7 linked regions of the Homo sapiens genome follow. The protein of the gene in region 1 interacts with the protein of each later gene in a pairwise test. Each region holds a gene or a part of one and is shown in the gene's direction. Other genes may lie near its edges. The genes, in order: KCNK5, TMEM128, ATP5PF, TNFRSF10C, ADIPOQ, TMEM14A and COMT.

Region 1 (3,500 bases):
GATTTTGAATCTTGATACTGCCATTGCTATGTGTTAGCTATCTTCCCATCCCATCCTTATCCCCAATTTTGCATCCACTGCACATTGGATTAGTAAACCATCTCTGTCCTCACTGTGCTGTGGTTTAAAATATTGAAGAAAACCAGGCCTTAAGCATGATGGTGGAGACTCAGTCTGGGTTGATAATGATCAATACCTCCTAGGGTTGTTTGTCTGCCTTTGAATGGACCCAATTAATCCTGGCTCCACTGACATTTCTGTGTCTTGTCCACATGAATTTCTTTAATCCCATCTGTTAGCTGCCTTGCTGATATCTAGATGGATTACATTCCACAGAACTTCAAGGCTTTGCAACCCTTTGAAAAGGAGATGCACTTAGCTGAGCATGACTTGTTCTGGGTGAATCTGTGCTAGTTTCTAGTGCCCACTACTTCCTCTTCTGCATGTTCCAAACATTCTCCTCTCCCCATTTTGAAGTTTGCAAGAGTTCAGGTTTGTTTTCTGAATTTCTAGAATCCACTCTTTTCCTTTTTGTGAAAAATGGGAACAGCTTGTCTTCTGACATCTTTCCTGTTCCCCATGATTCCATGGGGATGACCAGAGGTGGTGCTGCAGCCTCACCTGTGATCAGTGATTCAATTATCATTTCAAGATGTTCTTGTATGTTCTTATATACTCTTTTCTTGTAGGCCGGTCCCATTCAAGATCGATATCTGAGGTAGCAAAGGTAGATGCCAAAGGAGAGCTGGGTGGTTCCGCTTTCTCTGCCATCTGTTTAACATTAACGTGGCCCTGGTACTTCCTCATTCTCTTGCTCCAAACAGATTTGATGTTTTCAGAAACCCATTGGATGGTCCTTAGTATTTGTTTTAGCTCTCCTGTTGGCCTGTTAGTATCTAAATGTCCTTTAGCCATTTCACATTGAAATGGTCTGGCCAGCTAGACAGAGAGCTCTCTGAGGGCAGGGGCTGCCTTGGCCAGAGTTTGATGCGATGGTCCCCACTTTCCACTTTGATGCTGCACAGCCTTCGTAGCCTCGGAGATGCTGTGAAATGCCGGAGGAGGCAGCGCAGTGAGCTGTGTGGTTTGATGGTCTGACAGACAAGCGTGCCATCATGGAAAATTCTTTGCAGAGTGTGCAGATCCATTTACGCAGGCCGGCTGCTGCTTCTGCAAATTACACTTTCCTTCAGAACAACCCACCCATGCCCTTTTTTTCCCACCAAACCTCAGTCATGCTCTGGGTAGGTTAGAAACAAGGTTTTTTTTGTCTCCCTCTGTTTCCATCCCTCACTCTTCTGTCTCTTCTCTCTCAGTCCTTGTCTTGGTTTTTATAGGCAATTTGGCTGAATGCCTAGCTTCTGGTCTGGATGGCCTACCCATCTGCAGGCGCTCCTTGGGGACAGGACTTGAGCCCCAGATTTAGAGTCCCTTCTTATGTGACTTCTGGGGTCCAGGCCCTGCCAGCTGATAAAGCCCCACAGATAGGTTGGAGCCAGTGGTGATAGCAGAATTGGGGCCTAGTCAGATGGAAACAGGTTTGCAGCTGTCAGTATTGTAGGAGTAGATAAGTTCCCCACACCTCTGCCCCACCGCTCCTCGCACTCTCCAGGGGGACATCCCATCCCCAGGTGGCCTCTCACCTGCTATCCACAGTTACTGGAAGCTCTTTGGGGATTGATAGCACAGTTATGAGTCACCCTGAAATGTACTCACCCTCTGATCTGTCCCTTCCCAGACAGCTGCTCAGCCCAGGGCAGAGAGAGAAAGGGCTACAGGGAAGGGAGGGAAGTGAGATCCCACAGGGGAGAGGGTACATTAGAGTCCTAGGCTGGGGGAAAGGAGGACCTGCTGATTTGCATGCCCTCCGAGGACAAGTCAACAGGGCACTGAGCTGACCTGAGCAGGTATCCTACAGTAGGCTGAAGGGTATATGGGGGGCCCCTCCCCAGCCAACCCTGAACAAGGACCTGGTCTCTGCAGGTAGAACACCCTCCATGGAGGGCTGGGTGAGGCACAGGGGACCTCCTTGTGTGTGTCTGCCTCACATGTGCTTTTTTTGAGAGGCAGAATTAATCTAGTGCAGTGGTTCTCAAAGTGTGGTCCCTGTCCACAGCATCACCTGGGAACATGTTTAGAAATGTTCCTTCTAGACCTCCTAAATCAGAAACTCGGAGTAGTAGGGGCCAGCAGTCTGTTGAACAAGATTTCCAGGTGATCCTGGTGCATGCTAGTAAGTTGGAGAAGCATTGACTCAGTGAAAGAATGAACTTTGGAGCCAGATTGCCTGGGTTCATATCTTTACCTTGGGTAAATCAGGTAACCTCTCTGATCCTCTATACAATGTTTCATCTGTAACATGGAGACACTGCCACCTTCTTCTTGTGATGACTAAATGAAAATGCTTACAAGGAGTTTAGTGCAGTTCTGTCAATCAGCATCTGTTAAGTGTGGCCTCAGCTCTGACCTTTACTGTTTCTCATTTTAGGTGGTATCTGATGCTGCAGGACAGGGTGTGGCCATCACAGGGAACCAGACCTTCAACAACTGGAACTGGCCCAATGCAATGATTTTTGCAGCGACCGTCATTACCACCATTGGTAAGTCTTCTGGGACCTGTAGGACACCCACATCCATGCCCTAGCTCCTCAGAACCTTTCTAGAAACCCAGCTCTGGTCACTCAGCCCTGTTGGGGGTACAATCAGATCAGTTGCAGGCTATTCTTTTGATACTTTCTTAGGGATTTGTTAAGTCCTTGGTAGCTGATCATGCCTGGGAAGGTTTCCTTGAGTCTTGACCTGGGCTCTTTGAGCAGAAACAATGACACAGCCTCATGGCCAGAGCCATGCAAGAGATTAACCAGACTGCTCATTGCAGAAACCCAGATCATGACTACTTACCAAGCTGGGTGTCTGTTTCAGTTCTCAGGCTGCATAGCCAACCAGTCCAGAAGTTTGGCTCAGAACGCAGCTTCTTCTCTTTCACCATTCTGTCAGCTTGACTGGGCTCAGCTGGCTGGTTCTTGCTTGGGCTCCCAATGCAGTGGCAGTCGAACAATGGCTGGGCTGGAGTCTTCTGAAAGCCAAACTCATCTGATGGCCCAGATGGCTCCTCCCATCACAGATTTGACAGTTGATGCTGGCTGTTGGCTGGGAGCTCAGCTGGGGATGAAAACACAAGGCCTCCGCATGTGTTTGGGAACCAAGGCGAAAAGCAGCAGGCTTCTTAGACCTCACCTGTCCAGCGTCTCTTCCGCTGCCTAGACTGCTTCTGTTGTCAAGCCACTAAAGCCCAGATTCCAAGGGAAGAGGATTAGATGACACCTTGATGTGAGCAGTTGCATAAGAAGGGAGGGAATGGAGGATGGCTATCTTTGGAGACCATCTACCACAGTGCTTCTGGGGAATCTACACAGAGAGCATGTCTTATAACTTGCACAGTGGTACCATATAGACTAGTGGAAGACCTGTTGACCAGGCTTAGTCCCTGCCTTCAGGGA
Region 2 (3,500 bases), on another chromosome or scaffold:
TTGGAGAGTGATGTGGAGACCCTTGGATAAGAAATGGAAGGGAGAGGTATGTTGGTGAGCATCATGGCATTGGGAGGGCTGGTGTGCTTAGGGTCAAGAGTAATAATTTGGAAGTACCAGTGGGGGTAGGAAGATGCAGACAGGACTGTGGTCCCCTCGTATCATGGCAGGACACATGATTTCTCCTCAAGGGCCTTCAGGAGGAGCAGTGACTTCTGGCGGAGGAGACTGTCGAGCCACAAGGAAAAAGCCCACAGGGGAAAGTAGGCAGAGGGGAGTTTATTTAAACTGTCCTCTACTTTCTAGGGGAGAAACTTTCCCTAAACACTCCCATCTTCTGCCCCTCCATGTCACTCACTCCTTTGTGGGAGGTGGCGTGACTGATTGAGTGTGTGATGAAGAACTGGACAAAGGTAGCTCAGCACCTTCTTCTGCTGCAAGTCGGCTGCCCATAGGAAGCGCAGAGTCTGGTCTGCCTTCCCATGGTGTCATTCCACAGGGGCAGTCCCCACAGGAAAAGGTCTCTAGGTTTTCATTTTGACCTGGAACCCAGTGGGTAAGGCTGTTTCTGGGTGTCAGAGACCCAGTATTAGGAAGTGCTTTGTCATCACTCACCAAAGCCATATTCTTCCCACGGCTGCATCAGTATAACAGACATTTAATCTTCATCAGCTTGACTCAGTCATCTCTCTTAGAACTTGGGCTGGGAAAAGAGGGATGGATACTTTATTTTTATTTTTATTTTGAGACAGGGTCTCGCTGCACTCTGTCACCCAGGCTGGAGTGTAGTGGTGCGATCATGGCTTGCTGCCTTGACTTCCCAGGCTCAAGTGATCCTCCCACCTCAGCCTCCCAAGTAGCTAGGACTATAGGCGCACACCACCATGCCTGGCTAATTTGGTTTATTTTTTGTAGAGACGAGGTCTCTTCATGTTGCCCAGGCTGGTCTCAAACTTGTGGGCTCCAGTGATCCTCCCACCTTGACTTCCTAAAGTACTGCGATTACAGGTGTGAGCCACTGCACCTGGCTGGAGGGGATGGGTACTTTAACCACCACCAATAGCAGCTGCTCTTTCCTTCATCAGATACTTTATGGAGGCTGAGATGTGTTTGGCTGTCAGTGCCAAACACGTGGAAGGTGCATTTCTAGCTCTCCAACAGCTCATTCTAGGCTGCAGCAGACAAGTTACCAGGCCGCATGGTATGTGCTTTGTAAGTGTAGGCGCAGGGTATCATGGGAGCATCTAGGAGGGATATCTAGTCCAGGTCAGCCTCAGGACTGAGACCTTTTTGAGGTTTTAGGAGATGTGAGAGAACTTCTGTATTTGTGTCCTTATATTGGGTATTTTTAGTAGTTTAGAGAAATGGCAGAGTAAGAAATGATCACACATAAGATATTTGGGGGCAACTGCAGTGAAGTGGAGTGCCCAGGACCACATAACTGCTGTGTGGCAAAGCCGGGACGCAGACACTGGGACCAGGGCTGTGGGGGTTGGAAAGAAAGTAGAAGTCATAGATCTGTCCTCAACAAGGTGTCATCTTAGAGAGAAAAAGGCAGAAATGCATTCTCAAAGGCTGAGGATTTTGAGTCGCATTGTTTTCTTGGGAAGGACTCATTAAGGGGAGTTGGGGGGTATTGAACAGCCATGAAATGAGAGGGCTGCACAAAAGACAGTGCCGGCTGAGTTCTGCTTTTGGAAAATGGCTAAAATGGCTCGTTCTTCTGACGCCTGAGGTGATTTCTTTTTCCTCTGGCTCTAGCCTAAGTTTAGAAGCTTGAGGCCTTAAGGTTCTTTATATTGTTCAAAGATGGGAGAGCAGGTCCATATTAAAAACAAAACAGGCCAGGCGCGGTGGCTCACGCCTGTAATCCCAGCGCTTTGGGAGGCCGAGGCGGGCGGATCACGAGGTCAGGAGATCGAGACCATCCTGGCTAACGCGGTGAAACCCCGTCTCTACTAAAAATACAAAAAACAATTAGCTGGGCATGGTGGCGGGCGCCTGTAGTCCCAGCTACTTGGGAGGCTGAGGCAGAAGAATGGCGTGAACCCAGCAGGTGGAGATTGCAGTGAGCCGAGATCGCGCCACTGCACTCCAGCCTGGGCGACAGAGCGAGACTCCGTCTTAAAAAAATTAAATAAGTAAATAAATAATAACAAAACAACACTGTGATGCTTTAGAAATCACAGTTTAAAATACTCGGCTTGTGTGCATCAAAATCAACAGTGGAGTTAAAGACAGAAAGTAAAATTAAAATCCTAGATGCTCAGGCCCAGAATTTTGGAAACTGGGGACTAGGTAGTTTCTCTTAGAAAGGTGCAAGGTGACTGTGATATAAAGCCAGGGCCGAGGACCACTGACTGATAGTATTATATTTTGTTCAGGCAGTTTAAAAAATTTTCTTAGGCCGGGCATGGTGGCTCATGCCTGTAATCCGAGCACTTTGGGAGGCCAAGGTGGATGGATCACCTGAGGTCAGGAGTTCAAGACCATCCTGGCCAACATGGTGAGACCCCATCTCTACTAAAAATACAAAAATTAGCTGGGTGTGGTGTTGGGCACCTGTAATATCAGCTGCTCAGGAGGCTGAGGCAGGAGGATAGCTTGAACCTGGGAAGTGGAGGTTGCAGTGAGCCGAGATCGTGCCATTGCACTCCAGCCTGGGCAACAACAGCGAGACTCCGTCTCAAAAAAAAAAAATTTTTTTTTTCTCATATCCACATGTTGGCAAAGGAAAAAAATGTCTAAAAAGACTCCTTAGGGGTAATGATAAAAGGCCTTTTTAGACATTTTTTTCCTAATCATTCCTGTGGAATGTGGAATTAGATAAACTATATCATTTATATACTGCATGCATATCTATGCTTTATACATACAATTAGAGCCATATTTTTTTCTTCACTTTGGGGGCGATACTCCCCCCAGTGAGATTGCATGCTCTAGCAGAAGAGAGGTCTTTGAAGACTCCTAAAGATGAACATGGACATTTTTTCCTCATAGATATAACTTGAGTGATGGCTGGGCATGGTGGCTGACCCCTATAATCCCAGCACTTTGGAAGGCTGAGACAGGTGGATCACTTGAGGTCAGGAATTCGAGACCAGCCTGGCCAATATGGACATGGTGAAACCCCATCTCTACTAAAAATACAAAAATTAGCTGGGCGTGGTGGCCAGTGCCTGTAATTCCAGCTACTTGGGAGGCTGAGGCAGGAGAATTGGTGAACCTGGGAGGCGGAGGTTGCAGTGAGCTGAGATTGCAGCACTGCACTCCAGCCTGGGCAACAGAGCAAGACTCCGGCTCAGAAATAAATGAATGAAAATAAAAATAACTTGAGTGGAATAATAATGATTATGATTGAGAGTCAGCTGTGAGGAGCACTTTGCTGACCACTTGATTTAATTCTCACAGCTATTCTGAGTTAAGTACTGTCAATATTTCTGAAACACACGGAGGTTAGGTAATTTGCCTAGAGTCACAAAACTAGTCTTGCTCAAGTT
Region 3 (3,500 bases), on another chromosome or scaffold:
TATAATTCTATTTCCCTGGAGTATAGGGTATATGAAGAGTATAAGGATGGTATGGGGTTAGAATGAGGGATTATGGAAGGCCTTGATTGTAGACTGAGCAAGTAAGATATGTGGTAGGCATTTGTGAGAAATTACAGCTTTTTGAACATGACTGTGGGGATGGAAGATTACTCTGAATTAGGAGGATAATTTTAACCAGGGTATTGGAAGGATTGAAATGAGAAGAGAGCAAAGACAGACATGTTAGCAAAATGTAACCTAAGCATTAGTTGATGAGAACCTTGACTTTATAGCAGTGGTAATGTAAAAGTGACAGAGTCAAGACATTGAAACACTGATGCCTGGTTTTGGTGAGCTGCTGGAGAGGAAGAAGAGGGAACAATAAAAGAAAACTGACTTTTGAGGCGAGGTAACTAACAAAGGTGTTACCATTGCCAAAACTGAGGAGGAGAAATAGTGAAGGGATTAAAATGTAGTAAGTTACTCTGTGCTTTGTAGACATGGTAATGAAACTCTGACAACAACCCTATAGATGTTACCCCAATTTTATATATGAGAAAACCAAGGCTGAAAGTTAGAATTTGCCAAAAATCATACTGTTAAGTAACCAGATGTGCAGGACTCGTCAGGGAATTTTGAGTGTCTTCTGTCCAAATGTGGTGTTATATTAGAGTATTGATGCTGTTTGCATCATTTTAACTGTCTTTAAAAGCCTATCTAGTAAGAAGTGAATTCTTAGGTGTACCCTATATCTAAGGAGTCTTGTTTGTGGGTCATTCATTCGTTTGTGCAAACAAACACATGGAGAGTTCTGAGGGTAGACCCTGGGCTGGCATCCAGCACTGCCACTAATTAGCTCTATGACCTTGGGCAGGTTTAACTTCTGTAGGACAGTTTTCTCATATGTAAAAGGAGGATGATGGTAGTACTTACCCATTTCATAGGATATTATAAAAATTAAATTATTCAATACATTAGCATGCCTAGTATTTGCTAGTGAAATGAACAAGTATCTTCTGAGTGACTGCTTTGTCCTAGGCATCATGTGAGAGCCTAGGAATATAGTAATAAGCAAGATAAGCAGCAAGACTTACATTCAGTTGAGGAGGTAGATGATTTCTGGCCTCTTTTTATCACAAGAGTGCATATTAAAGTTAAAATAGCCATCATCCATCTGTAACCAGTATTAGAGTATCTAGTTGAAGGATCTATTTAGAACCGCAGTGTCCATTTTGGTTGCCGTTATCCATGAGACTATTCAAATTCTAATTACAATTAAGTGTATTTATAAATTCAGTTTCTCATTTTCTCATTCATGTTAGCTATATTTCTAGTGCTCAATAGCCAGATATGGCTAGTGGCTGCCACACTGGACAGCACAGACAGAGAGCGTTTCTAACATCACAAAAAGGTCTATTGGACAGTGCTAATCTAAAAGAAAATTGGGTCTCTAACAAGAAATATTGATAACAAGTTCTTAAATTGGAGCCACCTATGTATTTTTTGTGCATGTTCTTTAACTTAAATAAGACTGTATACTTTGATCATAGGCATGTGTAAAAATGTTATTACCCTTGAAGGAATTTTCATGTGTACATTTTTTTACATTTAGAATATTGTTCATTGCTAGGTAGGCAGTAGTATTTATGACAAAAACAGAAGAATTTCTTCAAAGAATTAATGAGACCCAGTTGGCCCTGCTGCTGGTCCATAATGCTATATTTATTTTCCCAAAATGCACAAGTCTAATTTTGTCATTTTATTGCTTGGCAAATAAAATACAAACTCCCAGGCTTAACATTCCGGGCCTCCCATGATCTGGGGTCTGCTGGTTTTTCCATCTAGACTCCTTAGCATTCCCCACATACAGCCAATCCCTTACCACCTCTATGTCTTTGCTTTTTCCATCTTAGAAGGTCTCAAAATAAACCCTGGCCCCAGATGCCTGATGTTTCTCAAATGCCACCTTTTTAAAATGAAATTTTCCCTGATTAGCTTAGCAAAAGTAATCTCTTCCTCAACTTGAATAGCTTTTTGTTAAATCATGTCTTTGAAGCTCATCACATCACTCCTTTACAGCATAAATGTTTGTAAACATGTAATTTTTTTCTTCGAAATTGCAAAATCTCTGAGGGTAGGAAATAATTTGCTTCTTTAATAGGACCCCTATGGTAGAAACTTAAAAGTCTAAGGTCTTTAAAAGCCATTTAGTGATGGCTGACTTAAAGCAGATGATATTAGTAGATAATAATTGAGTACTCACTGTGTGCCAGGCACTGTGCTTAGAGGTACGTGTGCATTTACACCCTCGTTTGGTAGAACCTTCATATTTAGTTGTGGAAACTAAAATTTAGAGTGCTCTGTGCCTTACTCAGGTTTACGCAGTTGCTGAATAGTTGAACTTACACTCAAACAGGACCAGTCTTTGACTCCAGAGCCTGTAGACTTAACGATACACCTTTTGCAACTTAGACCCTGAGAAATTCTGACTTAGTGAGTGTCCGTGATTCTGAGAAACCTTGAATGTTAGAGATTGGTTTGAGGATACCTCATTTATGTGAAACCTCATCGTAATAAAATAGTTTGAATTGAAATTGAAGTAGAAATACTTATTTTCTTTCTGAAGTCTTTTCTTTGACTACATGAATGCTTTAAAAAGGTCTATTGGCCGGGTGTGGTGGCTCACGCCTGTAATCCGAGCACTTATGGGAGGCCGAGGCGGGCGGATCATGAGGTCAGGAGATCGAGACCATCCTGGTTAACATGGTGAAACCCCCTCTCTACTAAAAATACAAAAATTAGCTGGGCATGGTGGCGTGTGCCTGTAATCCCAGTTACTTGGGAGGCTGAGACAGGAGAATCGCTTGAACCAGGGAGTCGGAGGTTGCAGAGAGCCAAGATCATGCTACCGCACTCCAGCCTGGCGACCAAGCAAGACTCCGTCTCAAAAAAGAAAAAAAAAAAAAGATCTGTTGGAATGTGGTGGTGAAAAGTAATTTTGTTTTTGTAAGCTAGTACACAAAATTAATTTTTGTTTGCTCATTTACTTAACAGGACATCTGGAGGACCTGTTGATGCTAGTTCAGAGTATCAGCAAGAGCTGGAGAGGGAGCTTTTTAAGCTCAAGCAAATGTTTGGTAATGCAGACATGAATACATTTCCCACCTTCAAATTTGAAGGTACGTCTTATAAATCACAGATTCATTCTTGTGGGGGATAAGTGAAGAATATTTACACTTACCTGGATTTTTAGAGAACTGAATGACAGTGTTGACATGTGAATTTATTAGGACCATGACGTGTGCCTGAGAAGCTGCCGGCTAAATGTTTGCTGTTAGAATAAGAGCAGTATAGGAGATCACATAACATAGTGATTAAATGGTGGGGATCTGAAATCGAACTGCCCAATCTTGAATCCTTATAATCACTTTCAGCTGTGTAATCTTGAGTAATTAACTGGTGCATGTCTCCTCATCTGACATTTGGGGAGAATTATAGTA
Region 4 (4,066 bases), on another chromosome or scaffold:
CGTGGCTCTGTGTTAATGCTGTCAGTCTTCCTGAAGTCCTGTCCTCTCACCTCCTGCCTAGATCTGCCCCCAGCACACATTCCTGACTCCACACATTTCTCAGTGCCTGCGACCTGGCACACATTTCTGATCCGAACTCAGTGCCTGGGGCCTGGCAGGTGCCCAGGGCACTCCATTGCTCAAATCCAAGCCTGTGGAGAGGATGACATATCATTCCCAGGTTTCTGATGAGCAGAAAAAAAAATCTTTGTTTCTATAGTGCTATCCTCTTTTATCCACCATGTGAGAGGTCAGGAGCCGACTCACCCCAAGGGTCTAGGAGTTGTGCCATTGACCTTACTGCCTAGGGTCACAGGCTGGCACCCTTCAGTACCACACATTGGATCTCTCCACACAGCAGCAGTGTGCTTAACTCAATGGGGAGGTGAGTAGCCCAAGGTCAGATAGTTGGACCTGGATAGACACTTGACTGGGGGACAGGCTTTGGAAGCCACTCCCCTGGGCCTCCTCTGTCCATGGGGCCTCAATACTAGAGCCCACAAGGTCGGCCAGAGAGTGTCTGTGCCTCGACCATGCAAAGGGTGCCAGGTTGTGGCTAGGGATGCCCCCGGGGTTCCTCTCCCTCCTACCTACTCCTCAGCCTCTGCATGTGCCCGTCATGGCCCCTGTGTCCTTCATTCTGTCCACTCATGTGTTCACTGGGCCCCTCCTTGGTGCCAGGCACCCGCTACTGAGGGATACCAAGCCCCTGCCAGAGAAGCTTGGAGCTGGGTCACAGCAGCAAGGAGGCTGGAGACATCAGTGGCATCAGTGCACTGGTCAGTGAGGCCGCTGTGGGAGGAGGGAGTGGGAGCAGAAGCTAAGAGTGGACTGAAGTCCTTAGGCCAGGAGGTAGTTCAGGGTTTAAGAAGAGGAGAGACAGGCGTCCCGGGGAGGGAGCAGGCTCAGGATGGGCCTCCAGTGCCTCCTCTGGAGCTCACTACCCAGACTACAGCAGCGCAGTGGGCAGCGCCTCAGCTCCTTCCCCTTCTGCTGCCTACAGCCTGGACAGGACCCGGAATCAAACCGCAGGCCCTGGGTCACCGCTGCCGGAAAGAGCCAGTTCCTGTCCGTCCATGCACCCACCACCAAAACCCAGGCCTTCCTGGAGGTGCTAGGGGAGGCCATGCCCCTTTTCTGAGTGCTTGGAAGTGACTGCTGCAAGTGACAAGTGACCACGCCTTTTCCCCCGCGGGTATAAATTCAGAGGCGCTGCGCTCCGATTCTGGCAGTGCAGCTGTGGGAACCTCTCCACGCGCACGAACTCAGCCAACGATTTCTGATAGATTTTTGGGAGTTTGACCAGAGATGCAAGGGGTGAAGGAGCGCTTCCTACCGTTAGGGAACTCTGGGGACAGAGCGCCCCGGCCGCCTGATGGCCGAGGCAGGGTGCGACCCAGGACCCAGGACGGCGTCGGGAACCATACCATGGCCCGGATCCCCAAGACCCTAAAGTTCGTCGTCGTCATCGTCGCGGTCCTGCTGCCAGTGAGTCCCGGCCGCGGTCCCTGGCTGGGGAAGAGCGCACCTGGCGCCGGGAGGGGGCAGGGAGACGGGGACACGGCAGGGATGCCTGGCCCTGGTCACCTGCGGCCGGGCATGTCCGGGCAGGACGAACTCGCCGTCGGAGTCAGGGGAAGAACTGGGTCCCCGGGCTGGGCAGGAGGGACCCGGCCGCGAGGGAGCAGAGAGGCGGTCCCCCTGGCTGCCCCGAGCCCGCGAAGGGAGGGAAGTTCCAGAATCGAGAGAGGGAGGGAGTCAAGGTGGAACCCATAGAGTGAGCCTCCTGAAGACACAGAGCGGTTGCCTCTCTCATTAATTAATTAATTAGTTAATAAAATTAACCCCATGTTTACATTCTTAAACGTGTTCCTTGGAGATCGGTTTAACCAACAGCCAGTGAAAAAACTTTTCAGCGCTGTCTTTAGCAACTTTCACCTCCTCTGTCCTGAAAGTGGCAGGAAGCCGGAATGTGGCAGGAAGCGGTTAACCAAGGTGCTGCCTTGGTTAATGTCTTCCACTACCACCCGTGTGTCCCCTCTGTATCCCATAGGCAGGACCGGGGCTGGCCCCTTCCTTCAGCATAAACGGTGTAAAGTTGTTGTGAGTTGGCTTTGGAAACTGAGATTGGTAGTAGTGTGAGTGCAAGGACATATTATGTATAAAATATGCAGACTTCTAGGTCTCTTTCAGATTGATTGAGGTTTTTGCTAACAGCCCTTTTTAAGATTCTTTATGTAATACAAAAAAAAGAAAAAAGAAAAAGAAAAGGCCAAAGCAAGGTTACAGAAACCATGAGAGTTTGCATGTTGTCTTTCTACAAATTAATGCTAAATTCAGAAAAGCAGTAACATTTTCACCTCTCAAAAATTACACAACTGACTTTTAAAATAGTTTATAGTGGGTGGACTTACCTGAGGCAGCTAGAAGAATGGCTGTGTCAGGACAGTGGCCCTGAAGAGAGAATGCATGGATGACCAGTGTAGACAAGGCCAGCAACATCAGTTTCACGGTTTTGGGAATGTGAACTCTATGCGTCCCAAAGGAGGCTTTAATCCCTCCATCAGTCTTGCCTTATTAAATGCATTTAAATGTACAATCACTTTGTTAAATTTTGGAGCTAACACAAATCACATTAGATGTTTTATGGCAGTACATTCAGATTGATCTTCTTTTAAACAAGGGTATTGTATTTTACTGCATGGGTAAGCCACATTTTAATTCACTGTTGCCGCCTAGGGGCAGCTGGTTAGATCCCATCCTGACGGCCTTTGCTAATTCCAACAGCATTGTACTAAATACCCTTGTATGTATCGTGTGTCCACATATCCATGCACACCAGCTTATTGGGCAACTCCTTACAAGTTGAATTCTACTTCTCCTTCTGTGGGATAAATGACTTCAGAAGTTTCTTTAAATGTTCACGAATTTTCCTCCAAAAAACCACTGAACCCAGCTTACAGTCACACCTAGTCCACAAATGTGCCTGTGTCCCTACACCTTTGCTACACTTAGCTTTCATTCTTTACTAGTCTAAGATGTAAAACATAACACATCACATTGCTATGTATTTTTGTTTCCTCATGGTATTAGGAATTTTCAAGGATATAGGAGTTTTTTGGTACTGGGAGTAGACCAGGGTATCCAGATGAGACAGCAGGGAAGACTGAATTCTGAGCTGTGCACTTGGAAAACCCTGGTCAGTTGGGGCCAGTCCCTGCCACCCACCATGCCTGTGAATGGAGATAAGGTCTCCATCCTCAGCCTGTCAGGGTGACTTCAGATGAGCCTGGAGCTGAGTTCAGTTCCTGACCCCAGGTCCTGGCTCTGTCAATGCTGGGCTGGTCCAATCTGTGCGCCAGGTCCTTCCACACCATTCCTCTCTCTATCAAAGTAGGAATTGAGAAGTTCCAACGGCTCAGAATCTCGGACTCTCAGGCTGTCAAGGACTCCTGAGATTGAAGGTTGTGAATGGCTGGGCCCTGCCGTGCTCCCCCTCTGGCTCTGTGACTCTGGTGTGGCCCCAGCTCCTGCCTGTAAAGTGAAGAGGAGGTAAAAATCTTCAGCAGCCCTGTGTAAACCTCAGAGGGCTGTGTTACCAGGTGTGGGAGGACAAATCACATCCTCAGGGCTGGTGTCACTCACTCTGGACTGGATCCCCAGGCACCTGTCCTCCATCCAGCAGAGGCTGCCCCTGTTCCTACCTGCACCCTGGTACTTGCTCCCTGAGCTTGGGGCAGAAGCTTCTGAAGACTAGGGTGGAGCACCACGGGGAGGGGCCATGGAGGAACAGAGGAGCCAGACGTCAAGTGAGGACAGCGATGGCACTGCAGGGCCACAGCCTGGTTTACCTGCCATGCTTCCAGTTGTCCTTCTGGTAGGCGCCTGGCCCGGGTTGTAGTTTGAAGAGTGAGCAGGAAATGTCTCCATCCAGGTGGCTGCAGATGGCTACTCACCCAGGCTGTACTGAGAGGCCACAGTCCCAGTTCTGGTCCTCTGTCGTGTATCCAGGAGTGGCAGGGCAGTG
Region 5 (3,970 bases), on another chromosome or scaffold:
CAGGCAGACACTTGCCCTGCCTCTGTCTGAGAAAATTCTGTTTTGGATGTCTTGTTGAAGTTGGTGCTGGCATCCTAAGCCCTTGCTGGGGTCGTAATTTAATTCATCAGAATGTGTGGCTTGCAAGAACCGGCTCAGATCCTGCCCTTCAAAAACAAAACATGAGCGTGCCAAGAAAGTCCAAGGTGTTGAATGTTGCCACTTCAAGCCTAAACTTTCTAGGAACACCTAAGTGGGTGGCAGCTTCCAGTTCTCCAGGCTGCTTCTAGGCCAGAGCTGGGTTCCACAAGAGACAGAATAGGCATATATATGCTTAAGGAACTGGAAAAACAGGCTCTCTCTCTCTCACAAACACACACACACACATACCAAGGTAGCTGTCAAAATGTTATCCGAAATTTTGGAACCAAAAAATCTTGAAAGATGGTATTCCAATATCACATTTTATGTAAGTTTTCTATTATATTAGATTCAAATTACGATTCGAGGCCACAAGCTTTAAGAATTCAGGGCCTTTTTAACTTGCCAAGCCCCACACCACTCCAGGAACTTCCCCACACCCCAGTTCTCAGAATTCATGTGCAAGGTCTTTCCTAAATCCAGGGTCCAGGTCAGAGAGTGGAGGATGTGCTCTATTTCTTACCTGATTGCAGACCCCTCTGACAGTGCTCCCTTCTGAAGCACTCACTGTCTGAACGTACACAGTCTCAGACTTAATCATGCACAGTGAGCAAGACTGTGGTGTGATAATTGGCGTCCCTGACTTATTAGGGCAAATCTATGGGAGGGGGAGACCTCCTGGACCACTGAGCAATTAATTCATTTACATTAGGAAGTTTCTCCGTCAGATGCAGGAAAAAAATCTTGTTTTCCTGCTGTGGTTTTGACTTTTGCCCCATCTTCTGTTGCTGTTGTAGGAGGCAAAATAAGGGTCAAGGCCTGGAAACACAAGTGCTTTGACTGAAGCTCCACTTGGCTTCCGAAGCCCAAGCTGGGTTGTACCAGGTTCCCTAGGGTGCAGGCTGTGGGCAACTGCCAGGGACATGTGCCTGCCCACCGGCCTCTGGCCCTCACTGAGTTGGCCAATGGGAAATGACAATTGTGAGGTGGGGACTGCCTGCCCCCGTGAGTACCAGGCTGTTGAGGCTGGGCCATCTCCTCCTCACTTCCATTCTGACTGCAGTCTGTGGTTCTGATTCCATACCAGAGGGTAAGAGCAATTCTGTGAAGTTCCAGGCTGGGTGGGGGATGCATGCATAGCCTCTGGCTGGGATCACCCAGGCTCTCCCGTCCGTAGTAGTGTGGGAGTGGATACAGGTGGATACTCTGGTCAGAGCAGCACTGGTGGAGGCAGATATGCACTGGGCTTCTTCCTCCGTTCTCCCACAGCCCCAAGAGAGAAAGGGTTATTTCAGACATTCCTTCTAAGATGCATGGAACCATTCTGAATTTTGCCCAGTTCGCTCTGTAGCAGGATACCTATTGAGAAAAAGTTAGGGTCAGTAAGGTGGAAGGGTCTGTCCACAGATGAAGTCCAATTCGATTAAGGGGGATAAGGGAATACATTGCCTCTTAGCTTGACCAGGTAGGGCAAAGGAAGAAGCATATATGAAGGCAGCTTCAGAAAAGTCAAGCTGAGCACTGACTTCAGACTGGAATTAGGAATCCAGCTCTGCCACTTTATTCTACTCAGCAAATATTTACTGAGCAAATTCTATGGGCTAGACAGTGGATTGGGTTCACAAGATACAATGAGTGTGACATGGTTGTTGTCTATGGATTTGGGGATATATGTAGGTATAGGGATATCTTACAAGGTAATCAAGAGGTTCTAATGAGGCCAGCCATGGTGGCTCACACCTGTAATCCCAGCAATTTGGGAGACCGAGGCGGGTGGATCACCTGAGGTCAGGAGTTCCAGACTAGCCTGACCAACATGGTGAAACCCCGCCTCTACCAAAAATACAAAAATTAGTTGGGCGTGATGGCAGGTGCCTGTAATCCCAGCTTCTCGGGAGGCTGAGGCAGGAGAATTGTCTGAACCTGGGAGGCAGAGGTTGCAGTGAGCCGAGATTGTTGCCACTGCATTCCAGCCTGGGTGACAGAGCGAGACTTTGTGTCAAAAAAAAAAAAAAAAGAAAGAAAAGAAAAAGAGGCTCTAATGAGATAAAATGAGAAAAGCCTGGCATATAGTGGCAACTTATGAAAAATTGTAATTAAAAAAAAACATTTTCTGACAGAAGAAACTGGATCTACCTGGTTTTTCTGAAGCCTAATCCTGCTCGCCCCAGTGAGTGCTGTTTCTGAGGCATCCTGGTTGTTTTGAGCTGTGGATGCTGAAGGTTAGAGTGGGAGGGATTTTAGAGGTTAGGTCTGCCCCTCTTGTGTTAGAGGACATGGATCCCTGGTCTGGAGAGGTTCTGGTTTTTGGATCAAGCCTCACAAGGGGTGGCACCAACTCACTCCTAGGAACTCCGCTAGAAGGAAGGCCAGCTCTGCCTAATTCGGTTGGGGAGATGGGGGTCCCTTTATGCTAGCAGAATATGTCCGAAGGAGCATGATGGTGTCAGCTTTGTTCATGAAGGCCAGTGGTACACAGGGAGCCCGGCAGCTTCCTCAGCAGTCCCTGCTGCCACTCTTCCTTAAGTCTTGAGGAGTCTTTTTTTGGCACAATCTCAGCTCACTGCAACCTCCGCCTCCCAGGTTCAAGCGATTCTCCTGCCTCAGTCTCCCAAGTAGCTGAGACTACAGGCATGCGCCACCACGCCCAGCTAATTTTTATATTTTTAGTAGAGATGGGGTTCACCATATTGGCCAGGATGGTCTCGATCTCTTGACCTCATATTCCACCTGCCTCGGCCTCCCAAAGTGCTGGTATTACAGGTGTGAGCCACTGCGCCTGGCCGAGGAGTCTTAAGCTGAGATCACAGCATTGCACTCCAGCCTGGGCAAAAAAAGCAAAACTCCATCTCAAAAAAAAAAAAAAAAAAATAGACACAAGACTGGCTCCTTGTCTTTTTTGGGGACAGGGTCTCACTCTATCACCCAGGCTGGAGTGCAGTGGTGCAATCACAGCTCACTGCAGCCTCGATTTCCCAGGCTCAAGTGACCCTCCCATCTTAGCCTCCTGAGTAGCTGGGACTACAGGTGTGTGCAACCATGCCTGGCTAATTTTTAAAAATTTTTTGTAGAGATGAGGTCTCACTATATTGGCTGGGGGGCCTCAAACTCCTGGGCTCAGCAGTCCTCCCACCTCAGCCTCCCAAAAGGCTGGGATTATATGCTTGCTCTTTTTAAGGTGGCTGTAGGGACAAACTTTCCACCTACTCCTTGTCAAGCCAGTGGACCGGTGGTCCCAGACATACGGCTAAAGTCAAGAGGTGATGTCTTTTGGAGAGATACTTTCAATCAGGAATTTCAATCAGAAATTCAATCATGTGGAGAGAGACTTATCCTAAAAATGTGGTGGTGCGTGGGATGCTCTGTTTTATTAGTTCCTTGACAGTATGTATGTGTGTGAGTGTGTGTGTGCGCGCGCGCACACTCATTTGGATGGGTGTGTATGTGTGGGGGGGGGTGGTGCGTACGTATGTGGATGTGTGGATGTGGTGTGTGGGTGTGCGCGTGCATAGGTGGAGGTGTGTGTATGGGTGCGGGTATGTGTGTGTGTTGGGCATGGAGATATTGACAGCTCTCCCAGGGCTGAGTGAAGGCTTTCGGGCAAAGCTCCTGGGAGCTAGGCAAAGCTGAGTTGATTCCTGGTTATGCCATTTATTATTGGGTTGCACCGTGTGAAACTGCCAATATTCTACACTTTGACTTTTATTTATTTTTATTTTTATTTTTTTTGAGACAGAGTTTCACACTTGTCACCTAGGCTGGAGTGCAGTGGCGCGATCTCAGCTCACTGCAACCTCTGCCTCATGGATTCAAGTGATTCTCCTGCCTCAGCCTCCCAAGTAGCTGGAAT
Region 6 (2,988 bases), about 13 Mb from region 1:
GTCACTGCCATGTAACCCACTGTCCAGTGCACAGAAAGTGCTTGGTGTTTGCCACAGTGCTCTGGGGTGGGTATGTGGGTTGGGGGCTGGGAGTGTACTGGTGGGGTGAGTGCATGGGATAGGGACTGGGTAGCTGGGGTCAGTATTCTGATTCTTCGTCTTTCTTGGTAGGGCCTCTATTAGTCCTTGAGTCCTGACATCTTGAGGCATGAAGGTTTGTTAATTATTCAGGATGGAACCATTGCTTGGTTTGTATAGCACTTCTGTCTTTACCTCTATAAACTAAAACTACCTTTGCATCTTAGTTTTTATCATCACAACCTCATTGCAAAAAGGAGGCAAAGAGAATAGGAAAAATTAAAAAAGAAGGGCTTAAGGAAGTTAAATAATTGTCCAAGATCATGTAATCAGTGTCCAAGCCACCAGAACAAGGCAGGTTTTCTTATTTCCCCAAGTGACATCTAACCCCACTGCACTGCTGTGCCCTCAGGGCTCCTCTGCCTTGCATTTGGGTTCAGCAGGAAACAGTCATCTCCTAGAAAGTATCCATGAAGAGGCCTATTCTTAATTTGGCTTTGTCCAGTTACTGTGCCCAAGTAGGAATACATTTGAAGGTGCCTGTATCATACTAGAAGTAATGGAATGAATTCCTTTCCTTTTGGGATTCTCTTTGTGATCTCATATTTTTTTCCCCTTCCAGGTGGTGTTCCGTCTTTGATTGCTGGTCTTTTTGTTGGATGTTTGGCCGGCTATGGAGCTTACCGTGTCTCCAATGACAAACGAGATGTAAAAGTGTCACTGTGTAAGTAAGGCATTTTTCCTGGTTACAGAGACTCAAACATTGGAGGTGATCTTTTTGATACCCTATGCTAGATATACTAGAACATATTTAGTCAAATGGCAAATGGCCATATGCATGTGTTGAGGCTGAATACAACACTTATTCCTTTCTAGAAAGACCTGATAAAAAATGATGGTACTGCTACCAGGCCTTCCAACTCAGAAGAATATTTCTATAAAAACTCGTTACTAGAAAAATTGAATTAGGAAAAGCAAGGAATTATTTTCAGATTTTCTGCTAACTCTCCTAAATGCATATTTAGCATAGTTTTTACATTGCTGTGGAAATAACTAAAAAAGAGACAGCCTTGCATTATTTCATTTAATTCACAAACATCTTTTAGATTCTGCACTGCCTTAAGACTTAACCTAAAAAAGCAAGGCTGACGCTTTTTTAGCTACTTCCCTTGTTAAGTTTAATGGGAGAATATCCACAGAAAAAATGGAAACCTGTGTGTTTAAAGTCACCAGGACACTTGACTTTCATCTCACTTGAAAGAGATACACAGTGAAGATTTAGAAAACCATACCAAGGACATTTTCTCTAGTTGATTTATTATTCAAAGTGCCTTGGTCGTGTATGGAAAAAAATATAAATGAAGACAAAATTGTTCTATATTTGAAGGAGAGTGAGAGATTTGGGGTTTTTTTTTTTTTTTAGTTATTTTTATAAGGGGCTAGGGATATTTTTAGTAATGAGGTTGTGTTAGATGTATCAGCCAGATGTAGTGATATTAGGATTTTTATTGATATGCATTTAAATAGTTCACAAGTATTTATTGTCAGTCATTTTATTTTTTATATCAATAAACAGTTTTTCTTTGAAAGCTGTTTTTAAATTGTGGCATTGATGTCCTAATCTCTTACATAAAACTACCTCTCCCTTCATAGATACAGCTCCAAAAAGGCTGACATGATGCTTCTGAATAAAATACTATTGCTTAGACTATTATTTAGTCTCCAGGCATCAAATTCTCCAAAATGGGATGCTACAAAACAAAACCAATCAGCCTTCTTTTTAGTATTTTTTTTTTATTAATCAGATCTTACTTGTAAAAGATACATTAACTATTTTCTTTATATTCAGTTAACTGAACATTAATGAGTGTCTCCTGTGGGTCCAAGTGTGCTACTTAGTGTTTCTGAGGGAAGTTGAATAAAGCTCAGTGCTAGCCTTCAAGGCGTGTTCTTTGAATAGAAATTTAGGTTAGAAAAAGACTTTCTTAGCTAGGCATGGTGGCTCATGCCTGTAATCTCAGCACTTTTGGAGGCTGAGGCCGGTGGATCACTTGAGGCCAGGAGTTCAAGACCAGCCTGGCCAACATAGCAAGACCCTGTCTCTACTAAAAGTACAAAAATTAGCTGGATGTGGTTGTACATGGCTGTAATCTCAGCTACTCGGGAGGCTGAGGCAGGAGAATTGCTTGAACCCGGGAGGTGGAGGTTGCAGTGAGCTGAGATCACGCCACTGTACTCCAGCCTGGGTGACAGAGCAAGACTCTGTCTCAACAACAACAACAACAACAACAACAAAAAAAAAAAAAAGAAAAAGAAAAGGTCTTTCTCTTTTGAAGATATTTCAGGAATGGATTTTAACATGTTTGTTTACCCAGAAACCTTTTCGGCGAGGTAGATGATGATGAAGTGTTTCTTTGTTTGTTCTTTTGTTGTTTTTTTGAGACAGAGTTCGCTCTTGTTGCTCAGTCTGGAGTGCAGTGGCGTGATCTCAGTTCACCACAACCTCTGCCTCCCCGGTTCAAGCAATTCTCCTGCCTCAGCCTCCCGAGTAGCTGGGATTACAGGCATGTGCCACCATGCCCTGCTAATTTTTTTTGTATTTTTAGTAGAGACGAGGTTTCTCCATGTTGGTCAGACTGGCCTCAAACTCCCAACATCAGGTGATCCACCCATCTCTGCCTCCCAAAGTGCTGGGATTATAGGCGTAAGCCACTGGCCCGGCCATGAAGTGTTTTAATAGAGCACTTTATCTTTTCAAGACAATGGCAACTCAGTACCTATCCATAATAGTTGTAATGTTAGAAAGCTTTAAATGGTACCCGCTGTTTTCCCACAAGCATTGATAACATGTTTGAAACTCTGGTTCATGAATTAGTTTGGTTTTCAGTTACAGCTTTCTTCCTGGCTACC
Region 7 (4,224 bases), on another chromosome or scaffold:
TTACTGGGAGGACCAGGATCATCATCCTATTTTGCATAGAAGGTTCAGTTTGTTCTTTCCCTTAAAATAGGAAGATAAGGGCATTATCCCCCTAAGTCTCGTATGATATTCCCCATTCTGAGTCCAGAATACCTAGAAATTTGGAATTTGGCTATTGCCGTGTCTGGACTGTGAGTATGGGAAGGGGAAGCTTTTCTGTCTGTTGTCCCCACTACCGCCCCTCACATCCGTGATTCTGAACCCCATGATAAATGCCCTTTGAACCTTTTTCCTCCTTTTGATGCCGAATCCCCTTTTATGGGACTCCGCCAGCACGGGTGCATTTAACCTTCCTGAGCTTGCCCACCTGACGCATGCAGCCAAGAAGCTTTGAAAGATGGAGTGCCCTGGCTGAGGGTTCCAGGTCTCAGCAAGGCCACGAGGTGGTGACTGCCTCCCAGAACTCTGTTGGGCCACCCTCCGTCCTGGAGACCCCCAAAACCTCCATAGCACCAACTCTGCCCATTCACACACACAGTCAGCCCTCCCTCCCGAGTCCACCGCGGGCAGAGGGCCAGCCACCATGCCTCCCATAGCCGCCATCCCTGGGAAGGAGCCCTGACCCCGTCCTTACACCCCTCTACACTCACTGCCTGTGGGGAGAGCTGCTCGCTGTCACAAGCATCCAGGGGGCTGGGTCGAGGGGCCCCCTGCATGGTGGGGGACCATGTTGTCGTGCATGGAATGAAACTGGCCACACATAACAGATATGGTGGCGCTCTGGTCGGATCTAGGGGAGTCTGTCCTACAGGATGAGGCTTGAACTGTCCTGAGTGACCAGACACCCAGCCTCTGCTTCGAGTGCTCAGTTATGATTATTGTCCTGATTTAGTTAACTGTTCTTCAGGGGCTCCAGGAGGACGAGTGTGTATCCTCCCATTGCTCTGTGCAGCCTCTAACCTCTAGAGTCTAGGGGTCTGGGGAGAAGTTGGGAAGTCTGGCCAGTGGGGCCGGTGCCTGGTGACCTCGGGAGGTGGGATATCATCATCTTCAGAACTGTAGTTGTTACTGGGATACCAGCTCTGGGAGACCACAGGTGCAGTCAGCACAGCAGGACCTTAGACAAGGCACCCAGCCCCAGTTTCCCCACCTGGGAAGGGGGCTACTTGTGGCTAGAAGCAGCCCGGACTCCTGAGCAAGACTAGACCAAGAGGCCGGTATGTGGACACCCCCGCGTGGGCACCCCCACGGGGACACCCTGGCCACCGCCGCGCGGACACCCTCACGAGGACACCCCGGCCGCGCGGACACCTACCGCGGGGACGCCCCGACCCCATCCTACCTGCTGCGCCCCGCGCCGCGCCCCGCACCCCGCCCGCCACGGCCTGCGTCCGCCACCGGAAGCGCCCTCCTAATCCCCGCAGCGCCACCGCCATTGCCGCCATCGTCGTGGGGCTTCTGGGGCAGCTAGGGCTGCCCGCCGCGCTGCCTGCGCCGGACCGGGGCGGGTCCAGTCCCGGGCGGGCCGTCGCGGGAGAGGTGAGAGCGCTGGCTAGACCGGGGCCGAATGCGGCCGGATTCGGGGCGGGGGCCTTCAGACCTAGGGTGGAACACTGGGATAGGGTGTGGGGAATTCGGACCGCTGTGAAGTGATCTGACGTTGGGTGGGAGTCTCCGGACTTGGGGTGGGGAATCTGGATGGGAACTGGGGAATTCGGACCTTGGGTGGGGATCTTTGGACCGGGGTGGGGTCCCCAGACTCCTTGTGGAAAGCTGAGGTTGAAGATCTGTGCTGTGATGAGGGGCTCCAGATAGCGGTGAGAGATCCCGCTTCAAGACTGGGTTGGGGGTCCAGACCAGGAGGATAAGCCTCTCCCTGGAGTAGGGCTTGACCTGGTGAGGGTGTGGTAGAGTCACAGGGGAGGGTCCCACTTGGTCCTTGGGCTGGGATCAGACTCTCAGAGCTGGAGAGTTGCAGGAGGCCTGGGGGAGGGTCTGTGGAGCCCCAGACTCAGAGGGCCTTGGTGACTTCTCCAACAGGCTCCCTGTTGGAGGCCTTGGGGTACCCCAGGGCCTTTCCCTGCAAGAGAGAGGCTGCTCCACCAGGAAGGGGCCCAGGACTCCCCAGGGTCGGGGGGATGTGTGGTGTGCAGGACCACGTGGGAATGTTAGAGAAAGGGGAAGTCACTCCGGGCCTGCCCTGCTAACAGACCTGCTTTTTGGATTTTTCCAGCCAGGGATTTTTGTGTCCTGTTGCTTTTTATTGTTTAAAGTGACCCTCCAAGCCTGAGGGACCGTAGGAGCTGCCCTGCAGAGCCCAGTGAGACACTAGTTAATGCAGAAAAAACAGATTTTACTTGGTAACTACTGACAACATGAGAAAAAGCTGGCTCCATGCTGATTTGTCTAGATGTGCCTGGAGTTTAAAGGGAGAGTGAGGGAGTGGGAAGGGGTGGGGACTCAGTAGAGTTAGGGAAACAGAAAATCACCAAAACTGGGAAGGGAGGGTTGGCCCCTGTGAAACCAACTGATCTGGGTTTGCCACTGGGGCTTACCGAAGTCAGGCCCCCAACCTCCCACAGAGACTGGGAGACAGGGGCCCCATCCTCAGGTGTTGGCTGGAACACACAGGAAATTCTTGTGGCAGCCTTGAACTTCTCAGGCAGGCACTTTAGAGGGGGCTAGGATCGTTCTGGGAATGTGGCCTTGAGCTGTTAGGAGCTATGTTAGTGTTCGTTCCAGCCTAGATAGGCCAGGGTGAGGCCCAGTGGAGAAGGGGACTCTAAGGAGCCTGGCTGGAGTGTGGGGAGGGAGGGTCTTTGTCAGCACTCCCCCTGTGCAAGAAGAGCAGAGACCTGCTTCTTTCCTCTCAACAGTCCCCGTCCATTTTCTGTTCTGTGTTGTGTTCATAAACTACCAGCGGGACCATCTGTTGAGACTTGGTAGCAAAGGATTTTTGCTGGATGATGCAAGCAGTCAAGCATTTAATGAGGAAACAAAAATAACAGGCCAGGCACAGTGGCTCATGTCTGTAATCCCAGCACTTTTGGAGGCCGAGGAGGATCACTTGAGGCCAGGAGTTTGAAACAAGCCTGGGCAACATAAAGACCCCATCTCTACAAAAAATTTAAAAATTAGCCCGGCGTGGTGGCATGGGCCTATAGTTCCAGCTACTTGGGAGGCTGAGGTGAAAAGATCGTTTGAGCCTGGGAGGCGGAGGCTGCCATGAGCCATGATCTTGCCTCTATACTCCAGCCTGAGCAACAGAGAGCCCCTATCTTTAAAAAAAAAAAATAATAATAAAATAAAAAAATAAAAAGAAAGAAAGAAATAAAAACAAAGATGAATGGAGCTGTTGATAAACCCAGTTTTTGAGCCTACAGGGCAGCAGTTGAGGTTTCTGGCCGTTGGGCCCTAACAAGGCCAGCAGGGGCACTCAGGGACTTCCTGGTGTGTGGTGTGAAGTCTGTGATGATGGCATAGGCATTGGTATCCCAGTTGTGGTTACTTTCTGGAGAGAGCATGTGGCATGCAGGAGCTGGAGGGGGGGTCTTCCTGGGCGGCCTGTGTAGCAGCAGCTCCAGGCACAAAGGCTGCCCCTGGAGAATCTGTTGTGGTTCTGAGTTCTTTCAAGTTTATATCAAGTTTTCCGGCTTCAGTCTGCAGGGCTGTTTTTTTCAGATCCTGGGGGCAAAGGGCAGCTACAAGACCACCTGAGTCCCAATAGGGATTTGAGTTCTTGGTGACACCAAGTCAGGGAGGAGACAAATTAGAAATGTCAGTCTGAAGAGAGTGGTAGGTAGCCAGATACTGAAGGAAAGTAGATGGGAGGATTTGGTAAGGGCTGACGTGTAGGAAGGCAGTGACAGTCCAAGTGACAGGCAGATCATAAAACCTCAAGGATAGGCCGGGCCCGGTGGCTCATGCCTGTAATCCCAAGCACTTCGGGAGGCCGAGGTGGGCAAATCACCCGAGTCCAGAAGTTCGAGACCAGCCTGGCTAACATGGCAAAACCCTGTCTCTACTAAAAATACAAAACATTAGCCGGGCGTGGTGGTGCACTCAGGAGGCTGAGGCGGGATAATCGCTTGAACTGGGAGGTGGGGGGCTGCAGTAAGCCGAGATCGCACCACTGCACTCCAGCCTGGGCAACAAGAGCGAAACTCCATCTCAAAAAAGAATTAGGCCGGGAGCGGTGGCTCACGCCTGTAATCCCAGCACTTTGGGAGGCCGAGGCGGGTGGAT

The links.
Region 2: the proteins of KCNK5 (region 1) and TMEM128 interact in binary tests that used the Homo sapiens proteins (3 or more experiments, as listed by UniProt).
Region 3: the proteins of KCNK5 (region 1) and ATP5PF interact in binary tests that used the Homo sapiens proteins (3 or more experiments, as listed by UniProt).
Region 4: the proteins of KCNK5 (region 1) and TNFRSF10C interact in binary tests that used the Homo sapiens proteins (3 or more experiments, as listed by UniProt).
Region 5: the proteins of KCNK5 (region 1) and ADIPOQ interact in binary tests that used the Homo sapiens proteins (3 or more experiments, as listed by UniProt).
Region 6: the proteins of KCNK5 (region 1) and TMEM14A interact in binary tests that used the Homo sapiens proteins (3 or more experiments, as listed by UniProt).
Region 7: the proteins of KCNK5 (region 1) and COMT interact in binary tests that used the Homo sapiens proteins (3 or more experiments, as listed by UniProt).

The regions. Positions count from the first base shown.
Region 1 is NC_000006.12:39,194,976-39,198,475, reverse strand, and holds part of KCNK5 (potassium channel subfamily K member 5), read left to right. Parts: intron 1-2,488; coding exon 2,489-2,600; intron 2,601-3,500. UniProt on the Homo sapiens protein: K(+) channel that conducts voltage-dependent outward rectifying currents upon membrane depolarization. Voltage sensing is coupled to K(+) electrochemical gradient in an 'ion flux gating' mode where outward but not inward ion flow opens the gate.
Region 2 is NC_000004.12:4,241,724-4,245,223, reverse strand, and holds part of TMEM128 (transmembrane protein 128), read left to right. Parts: intron 1-3,500.
Region 3 is NC_000021.9:25,724,905-25,728,404, reverse strand, and holds part of ATP5PF (ATP synthase peripheral stalk subunit F6, mitochondrial isoform a precursor), read left to right. Parts: intron 1-3,054; coding exon 3,055-3,179; intron 3,180-3,500. UniProt on the Homo sapiens protein: Subunit F6, of the mitochondrial membrane ATP synthase complex (F(1)F(0) ATP synthase or Complex V) that produces ATP from ADP in the presence of a proton gradient across the membrane which is generated by electron transport complexes of the respiratory chain.
Region 4 is NC_000008.11:23,101,655-23,105,720, forward strand, and holds the start of TNFRSF10C (tumor necrosis factor receptor superfamily member 10C precursor), read left to right. Parts: upstream 1-1,266; 5' UTR 1,267-1,467; coding exon 1,468-1,527; exon of another isoform or gene 1,528-1,904; intron 1,905-4,066. UniProt on the Homo sapiens protein: Receptor for the cytotoxic ligand TRAIL. Lacks a cytoplasmic death domain and hence is not capable of inducing apoptosis. May protect cells against TRAIL mediated apoptosis by competing with TRAIL-R1 and R2 for binding to the ligand.
Region 5 is NC_000003.12:186,841,540-186,845,509, forward strand, and holds the start of ADIPOQ (adiponectin precursor), read left to right. Parts: upstream 1-1,170; 5' UTR 1,171-1,210; intron 1,211-3,970. UniProt on the Homo sapiens protein: Important adipokine involved in the control of fat metabolism and insulin sensitivity, with direct anti-diabetic, anti-atherogenic and anti-inflammatory activities.
Region 6 is NC_000006.12:52,681,113-52,684,100, forward strand, and holds part of TMEM14A (transmembrane protein 14A), read left to right. Parts: intron 1-700; coding exon 701-802; intron 803-2,965; coding exon 2,966-2,988. UniProt on the Homo sapiens protein: Inhibits apoptosis via negative regulation of the mitochondrial outer membrane permeabilization involved in apoptotic signaling pathway.
Region 7 is NC_000022.11:19,940,380-19,944,603, forward strand, and holds the start of COMT (catechol O-methyltransferase), read left to right. Parts: upstream 1-1,424; 5' UTR 1,425-1,518; intron 1,519-4,224. Other genes in the region: TXNRD2 (thioredoxin reductase 2, mitochondrial isoform 5 precursor), read right to left, coding at 1,322-1,424. UniProt on the Homo sapiens protein: Catalyzes the O-methylation, and thereby the inactivation, of catecholamine neurotransmitters and catechol hormones. Also shortens the biological half-lives of certain neuroactive drugs, like L-DOPA, alpha-methyl DOPA and isoproterenol.